2 separate regions of the Homo sapiens genome follow, and region 1 is linked to region 2. A link means that fine-mapping ties the variant in region 2 to the plasma level of a protein whose gene starts in the linked region. Region 2 holds a variant in brackets. A gene starts in the other region. All regions are shown on their forward strands. Region 1 holds the start of PRSS27 (serine protease 27). Region 2 overlaps ST3GAL4 (ST3 beta-galactoside alpha-2,3-sialyltransferase 4).

Evidence for each region. PIP is the posterior inclusion probability: the model's chance that the variant is causal. The UK Biobank Pharma Proteomics Project read protein levels with antibody pairs (Olink). The fine-mapping took linkage between variants from a reference panel, not from the people measured, so its PIPs are less certain.
Region 1: PRSS27 starts here. The variant in region 2 is fine-mapped to the plasma level of the PRSS27 protein (UK Biobank, PIP 0.92).

The regions. Positions count from the first base shown.
Region 1 is chr16:2,711,499-2,728,362 of GRCh38, forward strand. PRSS27 (serine protease 27) reads right to left here and starts at 8,726. Exons shown (of 6, transcript NM_031948.5): 1 at 8,617-8,726; 2 at 5,002-5,028; 3 at 4,220-4,382; 4 at 2,567-2,838; 5 at 2,031-2,200; 6 at 924-1,316. The coding sequence starts at 8,662. The coding sequence ends at 1,122. RefSeq lists silencers at 4,263-4,312, 4,393-4,442, 9,297-10,056, 10,187-10,256, 10,940-11,109 and 1 more and an enhancer at 8,996-9,563.
Region 2 is chr11:126,363,111-126,371,110 of GRCh38, forward strand. All of the region lies in intron 1 of ST3GAL4 (ST3 beta-galactoside alpha-2,3-sialyltransferase 4), which reads left to right. Among named protein-coding and RNA genes, the nearest start is that of ST3GAL4, 11 kb to the left of the region's middle. RefSeq lists an enhancer at 1,476-1,993. The variant G/A (reference allele first, on the strand shown) is at 4,276.

The DNA.
Region 1 (16,864 bases), not on the chromosome of region 2:
GCCTGCCTCTCCCTCCACCTGGGCTTCGTGCATCTGCTCCCCCATGGGGCTGTGCGCACAGGCCCCCCAGACCTGCCCACCCACCCCTGGGCTGGAGGAGTGCAAGAAATGGCCCACGGGGGCCACTGGGCAGCCGTTGGGGAGATGGGTCGGGCCCAGCGGGGAATTCCTTCTGTTTTGCTCCCCACGGTGTCCCCAGCAGCTGCTTGCTGAGTGGGTGTTGGTTTGATTCCTTGGTGGACACTCAGGGCCTGATTTCTTCCTGCCGCTGTACAGGCCACGGTGCCTGTGTGTGTGTGCACGGGTGCGTGTGGGTGTGATGTGCATGTCCAGCCTAATCCCCTTGCCACCACGCACTGCTCTGGACTCCTGCATGGGGGTGGAGACTGAGGGATGGGGCGGAGGAAGAGGAGCCAAGGGTCAAGGGGAGACGCCGGGGCACAGGGAGACGAAGGGTGCCAGGAGCAGTGGAGCAGGAAAGCACAGGTGTGGGCACCCACTCCTGCCGAAGTGGTTTAGAAAAGTTGGGTGGCCCCGAGACACGGGCAGCCGGAAGTGCAGGCTTGGGAGGCTGAGGTGCCCCCGCCCAGCCAGTCCCTCCATGCCCTCCTCTCGCCCCGGCACAGCTCCTGCATGGCCCTGAGGCTCTTTCCACCTGTGTCCGTCGCTGTCCCCAGTGCCAACCCTGGGGCGGCCTTTAAGGTGAGAGAACAGAGGCACAGGTGGCAGCAGGTGGCCTCCTGTGCGGGGCCCGTGACAGGGGTCCCATACTCTGGTGCTGTCCTCGCCTCGGGCACCAGCTGCAGCTCCCTTCTGCTGATTCAGAGATGACCAGAGCACTCCGCATCTCCCACCTGGGCTTCATCCTGCAACTCACAGCTCCTCACCCGCCGGGGTCCCCCAAGGATCCCCACGTGGGCAGCTGGCACACAGGCTGGGTTTTTATTGGGAGAAACATAAATAAAATAAGGGTATTTGAGAGGGGAGGAAGGAGCGCTATTTACAAATGAGTCTGGTGGGGCTCACAGGTGCAACAGCAGCGCTGGGAGGACCAGCAGGATGGTGTGGGCGGGCAGGCTGGGTGCAGAGCTCTGCTCAAGGGGCTCCTGGCCCCGGGGGTCTCACTTCTGGCCGCCCAACCTCGCTGGCTGGAACTGCAGTTTGGGGATGATCCGATGGATCCAGTTGTGGTGGGCGGTGACACGGATGTAGACACCTGGGCGGTTCTGGCGGGCACAGCCCTCACCCCAGCTGATCACCCCCGCCTGCAGCCACGACTGACCCACGAGGCACACCAGGGGGCCGCCCGAGTCGCCCTGCGGGGGACGCAGAGTCACCGTCAGAGCCCACCTTGAGTTCCCAGAGACTCAGTTGCAGCCGCACAGGAGGTGTGTAGCTCCGCAATGGATTCCTTCTCTCCATCCCAGAGCCTCTCTGCCCGGCTCCCCATCCCCTGCCAGTCCGATTGTCTAAAGTGCCTATTCTTTAGTGTCCCCAGATCAACTAGGGTGTGTGTGTGTGTTGAAAATGCAGTTTCTTGTGCCCCACCCCAGACCCACTGACTCTGATCCTTCTGGGGTGGGGTCCAGGAATCTGCTTTTTCTTTTTTTTTTTTATTGAGACGGAGTCTTGCTCTGTGGCCCAGGCTGGAGTGCACTGGCGCGATCTCGGCTCACTGCAAGCTCCGCCTCCCAGGTTCGCGCCATTCTCCTGCCTCAGCCTCCCAAGTAGCTGGGACTACAGGCGCCCACCACCACGCCTGGCTAATTTTTTGTATTTTTAGTAGAGATGGGGTTTCACTGTGTTAGCCAGGATGGTCTCCATCTCCTGACCTTGTGATCCACCCTCCTTGGCCTCCCAAAGTGCTGGGATTACAGGCGTGAGCCACCACACCCGGCCCTGGAATCTGCCTTTTCAAAACAAGCTGCTCAGCTGGTTGAATGCATAGCCCATGGAGCGGGGCATGATCCCACCCTGCCCTGGGCCTGGCGGTGGGGACTGAGTCCCCATGGACACCACATTGCTCCCACCTTGCAGGCATCCTTCTTGCCCTCCTCGAAGCCGGCGCACAGCATGTCATTCTTGATGGTTTTGGGTTGGTAGCCAAACTCGGTGTCTTTGCTGTAGAGCAGGTTGCACTTGGGTGTGTCGATGATGGGCACAGCGAGTTTCTGCAGGATCCGCGGTTCGGGCAGGAGGTCTGGAGAGGGGCGGAACAGCCCAGGGCTCAACGGACTTCCTCATCAAGAACCCACGGCCCCGGGAACCACCACTCCATCCTGCCTGTCGTTTCCTCATGTTTAGACCATCTCTGGCTTAGGGCACTGTGGGGCAGACATCCTCCCTCCTTCCAGGCAGCAGGCTGGGCCCTTTCTGTCCCCCTCTCCCTTCACCCCCTCTTCCTTCTGGGTCTGCTGCTGCTCCCCTCGGCCCCACCTGTGTGAACAGAGACCGTGTGTATGTATTAATATAGCAACAGGAAGATTGTGGGTTCAGAGTGGTCCCCAAGCCGTCCTGGGCCTTCTTGAGGCATATCCCCCATTCTTTCCCAGCCCTGTCCCCTTACCTTCCTCACTGGGGCTGCCCCAGCCAGTGACCCAGCAGTTCATGCCCGTCTCAAAGATCACCGAGGGGTCAGGCAGGCACACGGGGAGGATGTAATTGGTGAAGGGCACTGGTGCCTCCAGCTCCACCAGGGCCACGTCAGCGCTGGAGGCCGTGCCCTGGTACAGGGGGTTGCTCTCCACCTGCCTCACCCGGGCATACATAGCGTGTGGTCCCGGCTGCACTAGCTGCCTTGCCCCCAGCAGGACCTGGTACAGGGACGTCTCAGAGGTGCTGGCGGGAGAAACAGAGAGGCGGCGTGAGGCGGCCCCTCGTGTGGGGACAGGCCCGGGAGGGGCTGGGGCTCCTCTGGCCACCACCGTGCCCCACACCTCTCTCTGCACAATGTCTTCGAGAGTCATCTCTAGGACAGCCAGGTGCAGCGGTGATGCGTGTTGACATTGAAGCCAGACCGCCCGACTCAGATTTCCACCTCCACCCCTGGCCGCTGTGTGGCCTTGGGCAAGTCACTTAACAAGTTCTCTGTGATGCAGCTTTCTCACCTGTGCTGTGGGGACAGTCACAGTGCCTACCTGAAAGGCTGGCTCGGAGAGAACCACCCTCCAGGTGCAGCAGGGCCAGCCCCACCTGCGGGCCTCTGGCAGGTGACCTGCCCTCTCTCAGCCCGAGTTTCCGATTTTTTTTTTCCCCTAGAGACAGAGTTCTCATTCTGTCACCCAGGCTGGAGTGCAGCAGTGCAACTGTAGCTCACTGCAGCCTCCAACTCCTGGGCTCAAGCCATCCTCTCGCCTCAGCTTCCTGAGTACTTGGGACCACAGGCACCACTGCACCTGGGGTTTTTTTGTTTGTTTGTTTTTTGTTTTTTAATTTTTTTTTATTTTTAGTAGAGACAGGGTCTTGCTGTGTTGCCCGGGCTGGTCTTGAACTCCTGGGCTCAACTGATCTGCCCGCCTTGGCCTCCCAAAGTGCTGGGATTACGGGTGTGAGCCACCGTGCCTGGCCGTGAGTATCTGAATTTAAGATGTGGGGTTTTTTTTGTCATGATATTCTTTTAAAGATCAAGAAGAAAAAAAAGAAAAAGATGTGGGGTTTAAAATAATTAGAGCTGCGGTGTTGAGGTGTGAGGTGAGGGGGCCTGGGACACCCGGAAGGTGTGGGACCAGGTGGTTCATACATGGCAGAGGGCTGGGTGGCCTGGCCTCTGCTCAGGGCTTTCTGGGGTGGTTCAGGTGGGTGAGGGGAGGAAGGGCCGTTCTGTCTGGTCCTTGGGCTTTGTGAGCAGAGTTCCTCCCGGGAAGAGTGTCCTGGAGCTGAGGTGTGTGCGGGATGGGGAAAGGCCAGGAGGGGCCGGTGGGCAGAGCCTGCCGGGCCGCTTCTGCAGGGACCCACAGGGAGTGGGTGAGTGGGTGGAGGGGATGGAGGGGGTCGGGGGGCGGTGCGAGGCACCTCCCGCGGGCGGGAGCAGCGGTTGCAACTGGAAGTTAGCCCTGGAGTTGGACCTAAGGGAAGCATCTGGGTGGGAGGGGCTGGACCAGGAGCCCCCAGGGAGGTCACCCGCAGGATTTGGCGCGGCGGGCGCTGTCCACGGTGCTGAACCGGTCGCGCGCGGGGCGCTGTCAGCGCTATGGGCGGGGGCAGGGGCGGGCGGACTCACTTGCGGAAGCAGTGCGCAGCCGTCAGGACCCACTGCTCCGCGATGAGGCTGCCCCCGCAGAAGTGGCTTCCGTTGCGCTGGATGCTGACTTGCCAGGGCCACTCGCCCTCCTGCGTGTCCTGCCCGCCCACCATTCGGTTCAGCATCCTGGGGCGACCACAGGCTGGGGGAGCATGGGGAGCGGGTGGGGGCGCTCACTGGGGCTGGTTCCATGGCCGAGGCCCAGCTCTCAGCCTCACACTCCAGTCCTCGGCCCTCCTGCCCCTGACCTGCCCGAAGACCTTGGGGAAGTCGGAGGCCTGGGCTTCGGGGCAGTCTGGGATACAGGCAGACCCTCCCCAGCTGCCCCCCAAAGTCTCACTCTCCTCGCCGAGAAAGGCAACCTAACACCTGCCTCTTGGGGGCCACGGAGGCACTGAGATAACCCAGGGAAGGGTCTTGTCCCAGGGCCTGACCCAAACAGGTGCCTGGAAGGATAGAACAGGTGTCAAGCCCTCTGCAAGGGAGCCACCCAGAGGGGGCCAGTCACGGTTCAGGGTGATCCTCAGACCCTGCCGCCCTCATCCTGCACCGCGCCTCAAGGCTCTGTGCTGCCCGTCCTGCTCTTGTGTGGACCTTCCTCCTCCTCTCCTTTCTGGGCTCCAGTTCCACACAGCCCCCACTTTCCCCTCCTCTGGAATTCCCCAGTGTCCTGTGCGTTCCAAATTCCCTCTGGCCATGAGTGTCCCTGGCTCAGTCCAGCCGGCTCCTGTCCCTCCCACCCCAGGGCCCTGGGTGCTTACCTGTTGCTGCCTTGGCCCTCTGAGACCCTGGAAGTGAGGAGAGGGTGATCAGCCAGGCCAGCTGCAGCCTGGCCTGCCCTCCCCAACCCTGCAGCCCCTCTCCACTGACCCTCCCCAGCTCCTGAGGACTCCAGAGGGACAGTCCACAGAGGGACCTCACCGGAGAGCCCAAGGGCCTGCAGTTTCCCCCCCAGGGCTGGCTCTGCCGTATGCTCAGGCCCAGGCCCATGGGCCACAGCTTATCTGCAAGGGTGGATGCTCCTTGCCACATGGGGAGCCGGTCAGGAGATGCCAGTGAAGGGATCCCCAGGCTAGATGTCCCCTTCTCATCCTGGAAAGGGTCCTCTCCCTCCACACTCCACACCCATCCTTGTCTGGAAGTTTCTGGGGAGGGTCCAGCCTCCAGCCCTGGCACTGTAAGGTTGGCCTTTCCTCCCGGAACAGCTCAGAGCGGAAGAGGCCCGGGAGCTGTCTCTACATTTGAGCTGCCCAGGGCTCTCTCACAGTCTGCTCCGGAATGAGCTCCTTCCCCAAGTCTCACTTTGGTCCCGAGGCTGAGGCCCGAGCCCCACAGGCTTCTCCCTGGCCTCAGGGGAGTAGAGAAGGTACAGTGGTCTGCATTGGCCACCAGGGATCAGCCTTCTCAAGATTCCAGAGTCCCAAGAGCTGACCCCTCTCCCAGGCATGCAGCAGGCTTGGCAGACGAGGCCCAGGACCCCCTGCTGGGCTGTGCAAGGGGGCTTTGGAGCGGATAAAGTGAGGGGCCCGGAAGAGAAGCAAGATATGGGGTCGTTCGGGGGAACCAAGGATGGGAACATATTTTCTGCTGTCCATTGCCTCCCACACCCCAGGACACAAAGGGCCTCTTGCTGGGCCTTTAACCAAACACTGGAGCCTCTACCCCAGCTTGGAGACCCCAGCCAGGACCATAGTGTACAGCCCCAGGGTAGCAAAGCCTGGAACTTCCTGGCCTTGAGAGAGTCCTCTCACCACCCCTGCACTCCACGCGTCTGATTCTGTGGGGGCAAGATTCGCCCGTAGCTGGGGAGGGGTTAGAACAGCCACCTCCCCACACCTAGGCCCTCAGCTTCCCCTTAACCCCCAGTGCCTTCCGGTGCCCGGGCCAGCTGCTATGGACCATGTCTTCACTCTGCCCGGAAAAGATAACCAGTCCCCTGGAGTTGAGGGGCTGTGGGGACAGGAAGTGGCCATGGAGGGCCCAAGCACCCCCAGGGTTTTTACGGCATCCTCTTCCTTTCTGTCTGCCTCACAGTCTGGGGGGCACCCTCCCCAACACCACTGGTGGGCAGAGACACCCCGGGGGTTGCTGGACGATAAGGCAGCGGGCGGCGAGGGGGCAGCTGTGGATGGGCAGGAGGAGGAGGTGGAGAAGGTGCAGGGCAGGCAAAGGGGTGCCCTGCAGAAGCGGGGTCAGGGGCAACGGGAAATGGAGAGTCTGCCCTGGATGCTCTGCTCATTAATTTGTGCTAATTAAGTGCCCTTTAAAATGCAAACACTACCGGGAGGGTTATTCCCTGGCCCCCCGACCCCTTGCTCCTTCCAAGCCTGAGGATCCTGCTTGCAGAAGGGCGCGCACTGTCAGGCCTTCTCGCTCTCTGGGAGTCTGCAGGAGCTGTGTCTCCATGCTCCCTGCCTGAGCACTGCCCCTTCAGCGATGCCTCCTCCCCATGCAGATCCTTCCTTCCTAAAGTAGCCCTGTACTTCTCATTTAGGCAGAGTCTTCTGGTCTCTGAGTGCTTGCTCCCCTCACCCCACAATCTGGATGCCCTTCCCCCAGTCTCCATAAGTCCTAGTCTTTTTTTTTTTTTTTTTTTTAAGATGGAGTCTCACTCTGTTGCCCAGCCTGGAGTGCAGTGGCGCGATCTCAGCTCACTGCAAGCTCCGCCTCCTGGGTTCACGCCATTCTCCTGCCTCAGCCTCCCGAGTAGCTGGGACTACAGGGGCCCGCCACCAAGCCCGGCTAATTTTTTTGTATTTTTAGTAGAGAGGGGTTTCACCATGTTTGCCAGGATAGTCTCGATCTCCTGGCCCCGTGATCCGCCCACCTCGGCCTCCCAAAGTGCTGGCATTACAGGCGTGAGCCACCGCTCCCAGCCAAGTCCTAATCGTGATCTAGAGATCAAGGCCCAACTGAATGCTGCCTCCTCCAGGAAGCCTTCCTTGCTTGCTTGCATTGTCTACCTTGGAAGCCCTATACTCTCTCTTGAGCTCTCTGTCCTGATGGGAGCTCTGTCTACATCACCCTGGAGCCAGAATCAAGTCTTATCTTAGCCCAGGAGCTCCGAGAAGGCAAGGGCTGCATCTGGGGGGCCTGATCTCAGGGAATGTGTGGATGGACACAAGTGTGGCTGTGGGGGCTGATGGGAAATGGGGGATGTGGACAGCTGAGCCCTTCAGGGTGGGCGCCCTGTGGGGGCTGGAAGCAACAGCCAGGGGTGCCGGGGGTGTCAGGAGCATTGTTTGGGGCCTGGGCCTGTGATTCGCTGGTAGCTGGTGGGGATGGTGAAGCTTAGTGGGTACCACCAGCCAGAGACCTGGTGGGAGTGCCACCCTCGGGCTGGGAGTGAGGACGTGTCCAGGAGTCCAGCCTCTGGTCACAGCTGTTAGTGAACCGACTGCAAAACTCATTGCCAAAGAGTTTTGGCAATGACCTTGGTTCCTCACCCCGCTCAGGGGCAGTCACAGCCTTCCACCTCCTGTGCACATGGCTTGCTCAGAGGGCACCATCCTTGTGCTGGGAGACTGGGGGCATGGGGTGGGGGAGGCCGGGCCACTGAGGGGCCACTGGTGCCCTCCCACCCAGGAGAACAAGGAAGCCTGGAGTACTGGCTAAGCTGCAGCCTGGGATGACCTGACCCAGCCCTGGGAGGTGACTTGAGGACAGGGAAGTGTGGTGGCTGCCAGACTGGCTAGGCTAGCCCAGGAATGTGAGAGGTTTTCCCTGACAGAGAGTGTCCCGGCCCGCAGGGAGGGGCCTGGCAGGTGGGGCCCCCTGGCTGGCACCTGCTGTCCCTGACCCAGGACTGGGAGAGGGCACGGTGGCGCATCACCGGTTCCTCTGTCAGCAGGAGACAGGGCCCTCTGCCACCTACACCCCCTGCCCCCAGCTCTCTACTGAGCCTGCAGCCAGCCTGCTGGGGCTTCCGGGCACAGGCAGCAGCCCTCGGCTCGGCCACCCTCCCACCCCGAGTATGATGGTCCAGGCACTTGGAGCCTGAGTTCACATCCTGCACGTAGGAGGCCCCTGTCCTCACCTAGAGAATGGGGGGAGAGGCCGAGGTGGCAGGAAGCAGGGAGCCTGGCCAGAGCTGGCACACCAGTGCCCGCGGAGAGGCATGGGAGGAGGTGCTGCCCAGTTATGCCGGTGGGGTCCTCTGGGGCCTGTGCGCACACCTCCCACCCTGCCTCCCCACTTTGGACTCCCCACTTGGCACATCTGGAGCCTTCCCACCTGCTCAGGGGCAGGAGGGATGATGGCCTGTCCCACAGCCCCAGCCTGTCCCAGGGAGTAGGGGGCTGAGCCGGAGCCCCAGGCAGTGCAGCGGAGCCTGGTGGGGGACTGCACCACCAGGACCCTGCACCTTCACGACTCACCAAAACACAGCAGCAGCAGGAGCGGCACCGCCGCCGGCCGCCTCATGTCCTCAGGCCTGGCTGGGGCGCAGGGCCGTGGTCGGCGGTGGCAGAAGCGTTGGAGCACGAGCGAGGTGCAGGCTCCATGAAGTGGAGTTTTATGCTGGAGATGAGCACAGGCCCGGCTATGCGGCCCAACCCGTCGGCCCGGCCTGCCCAGCTCCTCTCCTCAGGAAGGAAGCGCCCAGAGCCGACTCCTCCGTGACCTAGCCCTGAACCCCGAGACCCCAGGGCAGACCCCTCACCCCAGCGCAGCACGGGGTGCCGTTGGCCTCGGTTCCTGGACCCTGAGCTGACCCAGACCCCCCAGCAGACCCCGAGCTGACCGCGGTGCACGCGAAGTCCGTCCAGCTTCATTCATTATTATTATTATTATTTTTTTTAATTTTTTGAGACAGAGTCTCGCTCTGTCGCCCAGGCTGGAGCGCAATCTCGGCTCACTGCAAGCTCCGTCTCCCAGGTTCAAGCCATTCTCCTGCCTCAGCCTCCTGAGTAGCTGGGATTACAGGCAGGTGCCACCACGCCCGGCTAATTTTTTGTATTTTTAGTAGAGACGGGGTTTAACCGTGTTGGCCAGGCTAGTCTCGATCTCCTGACCTCGTGATCCGCCCTCCTCGGCCTCCCAAAGCGCTGGGATTACAGGGGTGAGCCACCGCGCCCGGCCTCATTCAGTATTTTATTGAGCGCCGATGGAACACAGTGGGGCTGGGCCGCGCTGGTGGGAAAGTCAAGGCCAGGGGTGTTTGCGGGGCCGAGGGCAGGGGAGGCGATGGGACATGGGGCGGGGTCCGGAGTTGGCCGCAGCGACCCTCCTCCCGGGACAGCAGGCCCCAGAAGTTCCTCAGGCGCGCGCCAGCGCGGCCCAGGCGGCCGACCCGGGCCCCGGCTGCCATCCCTTGGAAGGGGCGGGGGCTTCCTGGCACCAGGCGGGGCGGAAGCGGCTCCGGGAAGGCCGGGCCGGGGTTACCGTTTCGGTGTCCCCGCCTGGCTCTGGGCGCGGCGCCGCGGCGGAAGAGGCTCGGGGAGGAAGTTATTTGGGGCACGGCGCTGACGTCAGAGACAGAGTGGGGCCGGGCCGTGGGGTCGGGGGCGCCGGACCTGTTTCCCCGCCGGCGCCGGGGGTCGGTACTCGCGGGCGGGGCGGGGCCGGGCGGCTCCGGGCGGGGCTGGGGGTGCGGCCGTTCCCGCCTCAGCCTTGTCCGCGCGCGTCGTGGTGCTGCCCTCTGGTGGGCGCGGGGCGCGGCGCGGGCGGCCAGGGGTGCAGAAGGGGCGCTCCCAGCCTCATGGTCCGGGCTCCGGCTCCCCGCATCGCCCTCCCTAGCCCCGCCCTCCCGCGTCTCCGCCTCCGCCTCCACCGCCTCCTCCCACCCTTCCCTCCCCGTCCAGTCCCTGGAGTTCCCGGGTCGGGGGTGGGAGGCGGGCTGGGCAGCCCCTGGGGGTCTGGAGGGAAGGAGGGAGGGCGAGGAGTGGGAAGAGGGGACTCCAAACGTATTCATTCATGTATTGATTTATTCATTCAGTCAGTCAGTCATTTCTGAGCAGATTTGAGCCCAATACTGTCCCCGGTTTGGGGAATACAAAGGTGACCCAAACAGACCTCACCTCAGTGTGAGAGAGAGAACATCATTTAGCAGAGAAATCTCTAATTATAAACCGCGACGGGCTGGGTGCAGTGGCTCACACCGGGAATCCCAGCACTTTGGGAGGCCAAGGCAGGCAGATCACCTGAGGTCAGGAGTTCGAGACCAGCATGGCCAACATGGTGAAACCCCGTCTCTACTAAAATACAAAATTAGCCGGGCTTGGTGGCGGGCACCTGTGATCCTAGCTACTCAGGAGGCTGAGGCAGGAGAATCACTTGAACTCGGGAGGCGGAGATGGCAATGACACGAGATTGCAACACTGCACTCCAGCCTGGGAGACAGTGAGACCCTGTCTCAAAAAAAAAAAAAAAAAAAGGAGAATAATAATTATCAACCACGGAAAGTGTTTCAAAGTGTCTGGGTGACCACATTTCTCCAGCACCCTATGGTCAGGTCACTGATGGGATCTCAGAGGCAGTCTTAGAGCCTCGCAGGTAACTATTTCCTCTTGGCACCTTTCTGTGTGTTCCTTGGTGTCTGCTCCCCAACCCTCCTTTTAAGCCCATTCCTCTAAGGGTGTCTCTGCCTTAAAATCAAGAAAGTGACAAAAGTCAAGATGCAGATCAGGGCCAGGTGCAGTGGCTCACGCCTGTAATCCCAGCACTTTGGGAGGCCGAGGCAGGCGGATCACGAGGTCAGGAGATCAAGACCGTCCTGGCTAACACGGTAAAATCCTGTCTCTACTAAAAATACAAAAAATTAGCTGGGCGCGGTGGTGGGCGCCTGTAGACCCAGCTACTCTGGAGGCTGAGGCAGGAGAATGGCCTGAACCCGGGAGGCGGAGCTTGCGGTGAGCCAAGATCTCGCCACTGCACTCCAGCCTGGGTGACAGAGCGAGACTCTGTCTCAAAAAAAAAAAAAAAAAAAAAAAAGATGCAGATCAGAAAGCGAGGACGCCAGGGAAACTTGGGCTCCTGAAGAACAAGGCACAGCCACGCCAGCGATTAGAGGATCGGGAACCCAGACCTCGCCTCCATGTCCCTGTACCTGGAGCCCACGGACCCAGGGCTGAGAATGGGCCCCTTCCTCATACCACCCACCAAACAAATGAAGAGGGCATTACAATCCAGAAAGATTTTTATGTTTTGTTTTGTTTTGTTTTGTTTTGTTTTGTTTTTTGAGACACAGTCTCGCTCTGTTTCCCAGGCTGGAGTGCAGTGGCACGATCTCGGCTCGCTGCAACCTCTGCCTTCCAGGTTCAAGCGATTCTCCTGCCTCAGCCCCGCTAGTAGCTGGGATTACAGGCCTGTGCCACCATGCCCAGCTAATTTTTGTATTTTTAGTAGAGATGGAGTTTCGCCATGTTGGCCAGGCTAGTCTCGAACTCCTGACCTCAGGTGATCCACCCGCCTCGGCCTCCCAAAGTGCTGGGATTACAGGCATGAGCCACCATGCCCGGCCATGTTTTTAAAATAATCAGTCCCTCCCTTCAAAAATAGAATTGGGGCGGGGTGCCATGGCTCATGCCTGTGAGTCAGAGGTTGTAGTGAGCCGAGATCGCGCCACTGCACTTCAGCCTGGTGGCAGAGCGAGACTCTGTCTCAAAAAAAAAAATTGAATTGGACATTTATCAACTCTCTGGAAGGGGGACAGTTTTCTAAGGTTAGAAGTCATGGCTGGGCATGGTGAAAGGAAGAGGGAAGGGTGCTGGTCAGTAAGCAGCAATAGCCACACACTCTCAGTCAGGTGTGAAAGTGAAATACAGACATTTTTGGCCAGGTGTGGTGGCTCACACCTCTAATCCCAGCACTTTGGGAGGCCGAGGCAGGCAATCACTCGAGTCCAGGAGTTCAAGACCAGCCTGGCCATTGTGGTGAAACCCCGTCTCTACTAAAAATACAAAAATTAGCCAGGCATGGTGGCACACATCTGTAATCCCAGCTACTGGGGAGGCTGACGCAGGAGAATCACTTGAACCTGGGAGGCAGAGATTGCAGTGAGTTGAGGTTGCATCATTGCACTACAGCTTGGGCGACACAGCAAGACTCTTTTTTTTTCTTTGAGACAGAGTTTCACTCTATCGCCTCCCAGGCTGGACTGCAGTGGTGTGATCTCCGCTCACTGCAACCTTCGCCTCCTGTGTTCAAGCGATTCTCCTGTCTCAGCCTTCTGAGTAGCTGGGATTACAGGCAGGCACAGCCATGCCCAGGTAACTTCTTTTTCTTTTTCTTTCTTTTTTTATTTTTTATTTTTTGTATTTCAGTAGAGATGGGGTTTCGCCATGTTGGCCAGGCTGGTCTCAAACTCCTGACCTCCTGATCTCTCCACCTCGGCCTCCCAAAGTGCTGGGATTATAGGCGTGAGCCACCGTGGCAGCCCTGACTCTAAAAAATAAAAAATAATAAATAAATAAATAAATAAAACCAGACATTTTCATGCTTGAAAGTTCTCAGAACATTTGGCCAGGCATGGTGGCTCATGACTGTAATTGAAACACTTTGGGAGACTGAGACAGAAGGAATCCTTGAGTTCAGGAGTTGGAGACCAGCCTGGGCAACACAGTGAGACCCCATCTCTACAAAAGAGAAAAAAATGTACTCCCTATGCGTGATTGTTGGAAAACCACCAGAGGAAAGATGCTCTTCAGCTAAAAGAGTAAAAAATCAAGAAAGCACAAGCTGTGGTCTGTGAAATGCAGACGTGGAACATGGCGGAGTACTGAAGGAAAGCTTGAGGCTGATGGTGAGGGACATTCTGGAAGGATAACTGTGCGCCAAGTCTAGAGGGCAGTCAGTGCTCATTGTGACACTGTGACTCAAGAGATAGGAAAGCTGGGACTGTCGTGATTGTGCTGTCATTGCACTAGCTCTTTAACCTGGCCAGATTACTGGAAGATGTGTTTCACCTAAACAAGGTGTAAACTGAGGAGGAGGAAGACAAGAGATCCAGGATGTGGGGAATCCAAATCAGGAGAAACCCAAGAGGGATTACAAGGATGACAGCTGGGGGATGTCCCAGTGATGGCAGCAGTGGCCCGTCTGGAGTGGTCGCTGTGAAGACACCAGCTGCAGTGGGGGAAGCATGGCCGGGTCTGTGCCCTTCATGGACCTGGAGGGGCTGGGAACAGACGGGAGCCCTGCCCCTTCTGAGTTGGCAGGGTGGGGAGCCCTGCCTTCCCAGGCACATCAGCAGCCACCCAGCTGTAGCTGCAGACCGGGGCATCCCTGTGCTCTCGGGGGGCCTGGAAGGCCCCCGGCCCCCACAGGCTCAAAGCGCCTGCTCCTGCTGCCTGGCTTCTCCCTGTTTCCAGCGCCCACTCCAATTTCAGAGCAAAGTTGAGGTCGAGACCAGGTGCTGTTGGAACCTGGCTGGGTGTGCCCGTGTTGGGGCAGTGCTGACGTGCCAGTCCCCTGCCACACTGGCCATCTCCGGACTTTGGGCGCTGATGAGCATGGGAGGGAGGCTGAGGGGGTGCTGAGGGCAGTCTCGAACTCCTGACCTCAGGTGATCTGCCTGCCTCGGCCTCCTAGCCCTGTCTGTGTTCCTTTATTTATGTTCTAGGAAAGAACGTATTTCCTGATCATTCGGGTTGTTGGCAGAATTCAGCTCCTTGTGTTTTAGGGCTGAGGTCCTGGCTTTCTCATTGGCTGTCAGCTGAGGGCTGTTCCCAGCTTGTATGTGCCACTGTATTCCTTGGCTGTGGCCCCTTCCTCCATCTGCAGAGCCAGCAATGGTGGGCTGGATTCTCACTTTGCATCTCTCTGACTCTTCATCTATCATCACATTTCTCCTTAATCACAGCTGGGAAAGGTTTTCTGCTAAAAGCCAACTCCTATGATTCGATCAGGCCCACTGGGATGGGCTGGGATAATTTCTCCACCTCAACGTTATTAACTTAATCACACCTGTAAAATCTCTTTTTGCCATGTAAGGTCATGTACTCACTGATCTGGGGATTAGGACATAGACATCTAGTGGGGCTGTTACTCCACCTGCCACGCTGGGCTTCTTCCATGCCAACTCCAATGACAATTTTATTATGATATTATTGGAGTATTGGCATACATATTTAGAATACTCAAGATATTCTCTGTGCCAATATTCTGTCACTTCTTAGTGTATTCTTTTTTCTTTTCTTTTTTTTTGAGATGGAGTCTCACTCTGTCTCCCAGGCTGGAGTGCAGTGGTTCGATCTCGGCTCACTGCAACCTCTGCCTCTGGGGTTCAAACGATTCTCCAGCCTCGGCCTCCCAAGTACCTGGGATTACAGGCATCTGCCGCCAAGCCAGACTGATTTTTTAATATTTTTAGTAGAGATGGGGTTTCTCCATGTTGGTCAGGCTGGTCTAGAACTCCCGACCTCAGGTGATCCGCCCACCTCGGCCTCCCAAAGTGTTGGGATTACAGGTGTGAGCCACTGCTCCTGGCCTGTTTCCACCTTTTGGCTATTGTGAATAATGATGCTTGAACTTGGGTGTACAAGTATCTCTTTGAGACACTGCTTTCAGTTCTTTTGTGAATATACCCACAAGTGGAATTGCTGGAGCAAATGGTAATTCTACATTTAATTTTTTGAGGAATAGGCAAAATGTTTCCCAAATTTTTAAGAGAAAATTAATGACTAAATATTGAAGATAATCCAACTTCTAAAAATACCCTTAATTATTATTATTATTATTATTATTGTTTTTGGAGACACAGTCTTGCTCTCTCACTCAGGCTGGAGTGCAGTGGTGTGATCTCGGCTCACTCCAGTCTCTGCCTCCCAGGGTCAAACAATTCTCCTGCCTCAGCCTCCTGAGTACCTGGGATTACAGGCGCCCACCACCACACCTGGCTAGTTTTTGTATTTTTAGTAGAGACAAGGTGTCACCATATTTCCCAGGCTGGTCTCAAACTCCTGACCTCATGTGCTCCGCCTGCACTGGCCTCCCAAAGTGCTGAGATTACAGGCATGAGCCACCGCACCTGGCCGGTGGTCCTTAGTTAATAATATTAAAGTCCATTCTGAAGAAAATGCCATTTTGATTGTTATGCAAGCAATCAAGTAAGTCTTACTGATTTCATGCCATTGATATTTAATCTAGCGTCTGAAGGAGAAAAAGTGCTCCTACAAATAAAACAAATTGGCTGGGTGTGGTGGCTCACACCTGTAATCCCAGTACTTTGGGAAGCTGAGGTGGGAGAATCACTTGATCTCAGGAGTTTGAGACCAGCCTGGGCAACATAGCAAGACCCCATCTCTATAAACAATAAATTTAAAAAAGTTAGCCGATTGTGTGGCATGCACCTGTTGTCCCAGCTAGCTGCCGACCAGGGCATCCCTGTGCAGCCTCCCAGTGTTAGGAGGCTGACATGGAAGGATGGCTTGAGCTCACGAGTTACAAACCAGCTTGAGTAATATAGGGTGACTCCATCTGTAAACAAACAAACAAACCTCCTACTAACTGAACAGACAAAACTGTCTCACCCACTCTGTGTTGCTCTACATCTGCTTCAGGATGAAATCCATATTCAAAACAAGCAGAACAAGGCCGGGCGTGATGGCTCACCCCTGTAATCCCAGCATTTTGGGAGGTTGAGGTGGGCGGATCACCTGAGGCCAGGAGTTTAAGACCAGCCTGGCCAACATGGTGAAACCCCACCTCTACCAAAAATATAAAAATCAGCCGGGCATGGTGGCACGTGCCTATAGTCCCAGTTACTGAGGCAGGAGAATCGCTTGAACCCCGGAGGCGGAGGTTGCAGTGAGCTGAGATCTTGCCATTGCACTCCAGCCTAGGTGGCAAGAGCAAAAACTCTGTCTCAAAAGAAAAAAAAAAAAAAAGCCAGCACGGTGGCTCACCCCTGTAATCCCAGCACTTTGGGAGGCCGAGGTCAGCTGATCACCTGAGGTCAGGAGTTTGAGACCAGCCTGGCCAACATGGCAAAACCCAGTCTCTACTAAAAACACATAAAAAATTAGCTGGGCATAGTGGCAGGTGCCTGTAATCCCAGCTACTCGGGAGCCTGAGGCACGATAATTGCTTGAACCTGGGAGGCAGAGGTTGCTGTGAGCCAATATTGTGCCATTGCACTGCAGCCTGGGCAAGAGGAGCGAAATTCCATCTCAACAAATAAACAAACAAAAAAACAAAACAAGCAGAACAAACGATAACCCAAATGACAAGGGAAAATGAGTTCAGGTCGGGCGCAGTGGCTGACGCCTGTAATCACAACACTTTGGGAGGCTGAGCCGTGGGGATCACCTGAGGTCAGGAGTTTGAGACCAGCCTGGGCAACATAGTGAAACCCTGTCTCTACTAAAAATACAAAAATTAGCTGGACGTGGTAGCGGGCACTTGTAATCTCAGCTACTCGGGAGGCTGAGGTGGGAGAATCACTTCAATCTGGGAGGCAGAGCTTGCAGTGAGCTGAAATTGCGCCACTGCACTCTAGCCTGGGCGACAGAGCGAAACTATGTCTCAAAAAAAAAAAAAAAAAAAGTTCAAACATCACAGAGATATTGATAGGAAAAATTTCACCCAAGACATTCAATGAGTCAGCTGACCTCACCACATCTGTAATTGTCATATTCCCCCAAAACGTGTCAAGGGAAGTCAGGACTTCAACACCCACTTCAGGAA
Region 2 (8,000 bases):
CTGGCCGAGGAGCGGGTGTTGATGGAGTATGGGAGATTGTCCTCACAGGCAGTGTGGGCCGTTTCTCTAGACCTCCTGCCCCCATCTCCTTCCTGTCCCTGTTTGAGCCGTGCTCTTCTTCTTCAATCCCTTTCTGTCTGCCTTCTCTTTCCACCCCTAGATTTCTCACCATCTTCAGTGATCCCTCCTCCTTCCTTTCTGCCTCCTCTGCATTCTCTCCTTGCCCTTGCTTCTCTGATCTGCCTTTTTTCTCCAGCCTCAGCATTCAGGTTGTCCTCATAGTGGAACTGGGACTCTGGGGGTGGCTGGGTTGGGTTGCCTGGAGGCCGGGAATGTTCAGGAGAGCCTTCATTGGGAGCCCATGGGAGCAGGAGTCAGCTCCTCCTGTTGGCAGCTCCAGCATTTTCGAACAAAAATGGCTCTTCCAGGAGTTGAGTTTGGCGAAGAGACAGTGCCTGCCCAAAGTATGCAATGCTTTTATCTTTAGCTCAGCTCCTGAGCCCTCATGCAACTCTTTGGACATCTTCCTGCAAAGGACGGTGGGATCTTGTCTTTCTGGGGCCTCAGGGTCTCCAAAGATGGGCTGACTAAGCTTCCCTAGCCTGGGACCTGAACCCTCCACCCTCCTCTCTCTTGAGCTCTTTCTCCCAGGGGAAGCTGCTCGAATGAGGGGAGTTGGCCAACACAGTTTTCTACTCTCAGACCCCATTGAGGTGAGCACACAACAGTGTTCTGTGTGAGGGTCTGGATACACTCCCCACCCTCCCAGGCCCGGCACCGTGTCGCCCTGCCCCAGCCCAGAGCTTGCCTCTGTTGGCTTTGTGACCCTCGCTTTGTACTGTGGCTTTGTTCTGCCTTAGGGACCAGCTGGTCCCCTGCTGTGGTTCCACACAGTGGAGACTGATCCCTGACCACTCATTCAGCTGCCTGGCGGCCCTGGGGCAAGTGTTTGTCCCCCATCTCCCAAAATGGCGGGGTGCAGGGGCTCCCTGCCCGGAGTCCCAACCCTGCCAAGGCAGAGGGAATGGGGAACAGCTGCGCTGGCCCATTCCGGCTCCATATGGATTTGGTTTGACAACAAAGCTCCCTCTGTGTGTTCCCAAGCCCCTTACATAACCAGGGGCTGTGGGCAGAGGAGGAAAGGAGGAGGAGGTGGAGATGGGGACCAGGAGACACCAGGATGGGATGGCTGGAAAGGACACAGGGACCGGGAGGAGAGGGCAGGAGACGAGGGCCAGAGAGGAGGAGAGGGTGGGAGCAGGAGGGGGAAGTGCTGGTCTTGACCTCCCAGTTCTGCCTCCTGCTTCCTGGGGAGGGGAGGGTGGAGTCCAGCCACCGACTTCTGCTTGTGGATGCTTTGTCTTCTTTTCTTTGGACCTTTCCCACCAGTCCTGGATAGGCTGAGGAGGGGCCGTGGGACCTGTCTGGGGTGAGGTGAGGTCAGGTGTTGGGCTGGATGTGGGAGGCTGTTCCTTGGCCGCAGCCTGTAACTGAATAAATGCCATTAAAAGGGGAATCCATTTCCTCCCTCACTCCTGGCTTCCATTGCCTTCCCCCAGGCCCCAGCCCTGGTTCCAGAATCCCTCTGACCACTCCTCTTGTGCTCAGGAGGGCAGAATAACTGCAGCCTTTCCCTGTGCCCTGCCAGGCTGGTCCCGGGCCCCCTCTCAGCCCACTCATCCAGGGATGCAGCTCTGGCCTTGGCCCACCCCCATCAGAGGGCCTGTGGCCCTGATCACCGCACTCCCCACTCTGTGACCAGACGTTCTCTCCTGAGCATCGCTGACCCTGCAGCTGTCCAAATAGAGCAAGAAGTGAATGTTCTCTTTGGGGCACAGCTGGACTGGCAGCCCTGCAGGGTCAGGTGAGCTGCCAGTCCTGGGTGTGTTCTCGGGGGTGGGGGTGGGAGGATCACGTCCTGGGCTGAGATCCCTTCAGCTCCTCCTGGGCAGGAGGAAACAGCCATGCAGGGGCGGCCAGGAGGACTGGGTGGCGGGTGGTTCTGGGCTCTCCCAGCTTCGGTTGGGGCTGGGACCCTGGGGGACATGCTCTCCTGGGTGTTCCCAGGCTCTGTGTCTGGCCTGTGCCTCAGTGTGTGGGTTTTCTGGCACCAGGCTTCCTTGGGAAGAGCCTCTGGTTGTGCACCAGCCCTGAGGGTGGGGCTCATCCCAGGCTGCAGGGGACTGAGGGCCGAGCTCTTCCACCTTGAGGACAAGGATGGTTCCTCAGGGCTGGGAGGAGGAGGAGGCGCTGGCCAGGACCTTAGATTACGCAGGGCATGGTGTTGGGGCCTCACAGATGATGGAGAAGCCAGAGTTCAGGCACTTGGCATGACCCCTGGCATCGCCTTCAGTTGATTTAGTGTCTCTGCCCTGGGATATTCCATGGGACCCTGGGCTGGCTTCTGTGTGCAGAGGTGGGTGTGGGCCATAGCCCAGACCTGTTGAACCAGTTGTAGGCTCTGGAATCCTCTGTCCCCAGGTAGTGACCAGGCCCTGACAGGCCGGTATCTGTCCCTCCCATCACCCTCCCAGTTATGGGTGCAGATGACCCTGAAATTGCTAAAGCCTCAGGGCTTGAGCCCAGAAAGTGTGAGCAGGCTGGTGGGGCAGCTGGAGGAAGGCCTTGCAGGTTCCTGGATTTGGGTGCCGGGTGGGCTGAGAGGACAGTCCCTGTCACTGGGACTGGGCACAGGTGCAGAGAGGCTGAGACGGGCCCAGAGGACAGTGAGTGTGTGTTGTGTGGGCGCCGGGCCAGGAAGTGCCCTCCATGGGGCAGCAGGCTCTGCAGTACCCTCGGCCAAATGGCCACAGGCTGCCCTGGGACACTCTCCAGGCCTGCTGGGGACACACCTGTGGGGCTCATAGGCGTGGCTGGGTCTCCTCTCAGGTGCCAGAATCTTTCTGGGAGCTGAGCCTGGCTGGGCAGAGGGCGAGGAGCCCAGGATTCCCCTTTCCGTGACTTTGGAGGAACGAGGTTCCTGAGGGCTGGCACAGCCACTCCCTGCCCCTTAGAGGCTCCGGGCTGCCTGGTGATAGCTCCCAGGGACCTGCAAGCTGACAAACAAAGTCTATACGAGCCAGAGCTGGGGTGGGAGGAACCCAGTGGGCCTGGGGGAGGTAAAGCAGCAGCAGCTGCTGTAGCTGAGCCCGGCCCACGGCCAGCCCTGAGGAATGGAGGAAGAGAGTGCCCTGGCTGGGGGAGCCCCTCAAGCCCTGGAAGCTGTATGTGGGCATGGGGTGGTGGGGGCGTGCAGAGAGGAGGAGGACTGAGAGCTGGGTGTGTGTGTGCGCATGCCTGTGTCTGTGTGATCTGGTTCCCGGGTGTCTGAGTAGGGACCAATGTGTTTGTGCTGGAGAAGCCTGTGTAGGTTACTGACATGGGGAGGGGTGGGGCTTGCTTTCCTCACCCCGCTTCCCACGTCTTCATTGAGTCCTCATCTGGGGGCCCTGTTCCACTCTCCTTCCCGTGTGCAGGGCCCTCCCCTCTGGCGAGTCTGCCTCTCACTCGCTCAGCCCCTTTAACCCTGCTGGCTCCTAATGAGACTTCAGGTGTGGACCCTCGAACCCTCAGCTGCACAGGTCTGGAAACATCCTTGTTCATCAAGCACCAGGCTGACCATGGTGTCCGTCTCAGTGCCCAGCAGATGTTCTGGTGAGGGGAGGCGGGAGTGCAAGGTCTGCCGAGTGAGGGTTCCTTCCGGGAGGAGGCAGGGTGAGCGCAGAAACCACTGCTCCAAAACTCTTAAAAGCAGAGCCGAGAGCCTGAATTCAGAGGCTGTACTGTGGGGCAGGGCTGGAATTTGTGGCACCTGCAGGGCTGAACGTTGCCTTTGCTGTCCCTGCTTGGGGATTTTGGGGTACTGGGTTTGGATAGAGTGTGTCATCTGCAGAGGGAGCACTGTTCTGGAAGTGGACTCTGCTCAGGTGTGGGGGGCCTGCCTGTAGGGGGCACCGTGGTGGAGATGGAGCACCGCTCATGACAGGAGGCTGGTGTCTGGTCAGGCTGAGGGATCCGTGTGCCAGCCCTTCTGGGAAGGCTGAATGGGGCGGAACTGGTCAGGGCCTGGCACCAACTCCAGGAGGTGCTACACCCAGACAGACAGATGGAAAGCCACCTCCCTAGAGGCCTCCTCCCCCTCCCCTTCTGCATGCCACCACACCCCAGCAGCGTCTCCTGAGGCTGGGCCATGGGTGAATCTGAGTCGAGGGCAGGGCAGAGTGGGAGTGGCAGTGCCTCTGCCTGTCTCCCTGGCCGTGGCAGGTCCTTTGTCAC[G/A]TATGGACCAGGAGAGGTGAGTATGATTGTGGTAGTGGTGGGGGCAGTGGCTGAGGACCCCTCTCTTTGCTGGGCTGGGGCAGAGCTTGAATGGAGAGGGGCTGCCTTGTGCCTGGGAAGGGAGGACCAGGTGTCGCTGGTACCTTCCAGGTCCTGAATGCTTGTTCTGTGCCTAGCCCCTGCTGAGGCTGCGGACGTTACAAACCAGGATGTGTTTTGAGGCTCAGGACACCTCTGAGGACTTGCTGCTGTTACCCCCATTTAAAAGACGAGGACTCTGAAGATCTGAGGTGCATAGAGTGTAGGGATTAAAAGTAGTTCTGGCTGAATTTTAAATCCTGGTTCCACCATTTTTGAGCTCTCTGATCTTGGGACCCTTAATGTATTTGCTCTGTGCCTCAGTTTCCCCATCTGTAAATGAGAATGAAAGAGTAATCCCACATCCATTGGTTGAAAACTTCAATAAGATTATGCATAGCAGGCCGGGTGTGGTGGCTCACACCAGTAATCCCAGCACTTTGGGAGGCCAAGGCAGGTGGATCACTTGAGGTCAGGATTTTGAGACCAGCCTGGTCAACATGGTGAAACCCCATCTCTACTAAAAGTACAACAATTAGCTGGACATAATGGCGCGCGCCTGTGATCCCAGCTACTTGGGAGGCTGAGCAGGAGAATCCTTTGAATTCAGGAGGTGGAGGTTGCAGTGAGCCAAGATCACGCCACTGAACTCCAGTCTGGACCACAGAGTGAGACTGTCTCACAAAAAAAAAAAAAAAGATTATGCACAGCACCTGCAGCACAGCCCCAGGGATGATTTTTAAAAGTGAATCCAGGGCCAGGTGTGGTGGCTCATGCCTGTAATCCCAGCACTTGGGGAGGCTGAGACAGGATTACCTGACATCAGGAGTCAGTGACCAGCCTGGCCAATATGGTGAAACCCCATCTCTACTAAAAAGAAATCCCAGATTCTGCCATGCCACAGTGTCCAAGTCAGTCACCTGCTCGCAGTCGGCCCTCAGGCCCTGTGGCTCCTGTTTCTGCTGACTTGTCCAGCCTCACAGTCTGGGGAGGCCTTGGGGTCCCCAGCCTGCGCTGGGACAGGGGTATTATTCCGTCAGCCCTTCTGTGGAACAAGTAGGGAAGGAGTGATGTGACCTCCGTGGCTCTCCTGGGACACAGGTTAGTCCTGTGGGTGACCTCACTTTAGAGAGGGCTGGCCAGCTGTGCCGGAATTAGGAAGTGGGTACAGCTGGACAAAAGGTGGCTGGAGCCAGCTCTACAGAAGCCACACCTGCTCATGAGAAGGGTATCCTTGTGAGTACAGGGGAAATGGCATGGAGAAAGACAAACACTGGTGGGTGGCTCTGCCAGCTTCCCCTGGGGTGCTTCTGGCGATGCCCAGGCCTTTGCACGCTCAGATCTTTGCACCCCACTGTTTTAACTTGGAGAGGAGAGGAGGAAGTTAGCTGCTCTGAATGGTGTTGCTGCTAATCTCTACAGCACTTTCCTGTAAATTAGGAACGGTAACACACACACCCCTCCCCCACCCCGTTGGAGAAGCCCTGCACCAGAGCATACAGTTTGGCAAGTAGGGGGAGGGCTGGAGCCCAGCCTCACTTGCCACCCTGGCCAGGCCGTGATTGCCCAGGGTGCATACTGTGGCTGGTGCTCTGCCACCTGCTGTTTCTGTCCTCAGGGTAGGACACAAGGAGGGCAAGTAGGGCTAGTCAGTGAGAGGCACAGGTGATGCGTGTTCTAGGGCTTGAGATCAGCTGCTTCCATTTCAGTAATTGTCTTTGGAGGTACGTTGTTTGCTCAAGCAACCTCCCTTCAAGATAGTGCCTTTTTCTTTCTCTCTCTCTCTTTTTTTTGGGGGGGGGAGGCAGAGTTTTACTCTTGTCGCCCAGGCTGGAGCACAGTGGTGTGATCTCGGCTCACTGCAACCTCGGCCTCCTGGATTCAAGCGATTCTCATGCCTCAGCCTCCCGAGTAGCTGGGATTACACGTGTGTGCCACCACGCCCTGCTAATTTTTGTATTTTTAGTAAAGATAGGGTTTCCCCATGTTGGCCAGGCTGGTCTCGATCTCCTGACCTCAGGTGATCCGCTCGCCTGGCCTCCCAAAGTGCTGGGACTATAGGCATGAGCCACCGTGCTGGCTGATAGTGCCATTTTTTAAAATCCCTATTTACCCAGTGGAAAACCTGAGACCCGGAAAGGTCATTCACACTCCCAGAAGTGATGGTTGGTCCAGAATTCAGGTCCAAGTGTGAGACTTCAACATTTACATTCCTTATTTTTTCTTCTTCCTTTTTTTTATTTTAATCAAATTATTACTTCAAAATGTATCACACTCATCAGTTTGAAACAGTTAAGCAGTACAAATGGGAATATGAGAGAAAGTCACTCTCCCACCCGCCCTCTTGAGAGGCAATAGCCTTGTTTTGCATCCTTCTGAGTACTCTATTCACATAAGATGTATCTGAATATGCATGTAATTCTTTTGTGAAAGTGCATTTGGAGATCACTGTTTTACACCTGCCTTTTACATCTTAATATTATGCTTTGGAGATCAGTTGACATCAGCATGCATCGATTTGCATCCTATTTTTCACAGCTGCATAGTGTTTCGTTGTGTGTGCCTAATTTTTTAAAACAGGTGCCTGTGCATAGATTTCATGTTTCCATCTTATGCTGTTAGAAAAAGTGCTGCAGTAAAGATCCTAACAGACAAGTCTCTTTGCAAATATAGGAAACTTTTCTGTGGAATAAGCTTCTGGCACGGAAGCCCCGGGGTAAAGGGTATTTTGATAAATATTGTGAAATGTCTTCCCAGAAGGTGGCCTGGTTTTCACTTCCAGCATACATCTGTGAGAGGTCCTGCTTCCCACACTCCCCCAGCACTGTGTAGCTCAGGACCCTTGTTTTTTGCTGTTACTATTTGTGAAAAATGGTATCTCAACCACACCGGAAGTTTTAAATGTAGATAAATGTCTTATGTGCCATTTATATTTCTCTACAGTAAAGTATATATTCATAGCCTTAGCTTATTTTTAAATTATGTTCCTTCATTGTTTGGGGAGTGGGGGGTAGACTTGCATGAGTATGTTATAGGCTAAGGGAATTAACTGATAAGTTAATATATGTACATCTTGCAAATGCACTTCTTAGTTTTTTACTCTTTTAAGTATGAGCTTGCTCACTTGCTCTCTGTATCTCACTTAAACTTTATGTGAGTGTATTAATCTTTCATTATTTAGCTTCTGAATTTATATTTCTTCAATCTCCATTCCTTTTTTTTTTTTTCCTTGAAATGGAGACTCGCTCTGTCACCCAGGCTGGAGTGCAGTGGCACGATCTCGGCTCACTGCAACCTCTGCATCCCGGGTTCAAGCAATTCTCCTGCCTCAGCCTCCCGATTTGCTGGGACTACAGACATGTGCCACCACGCTCGGCTAATTTTTGTATTTTTTAGTAGAGACCATTTTGGTCAGGCAGGTCTCGAGCTCCTGAACTCAATCAATCTACCTGCCTTGGCCTCCCAAAGTGCTGGGATTACTGGTGTGAACCACTGTGCCTGGCCCTCGTTCTTTTTTTTATATGAAAATATTTCAAATATGTAAAAATTAATATAACAGACCTCCATGTGATAATCAGCCAGATTTATCAAGTGTGAACCTTATCCCATATTAGATATTTTTTCCTTTAAGAAATAAAATATTACAA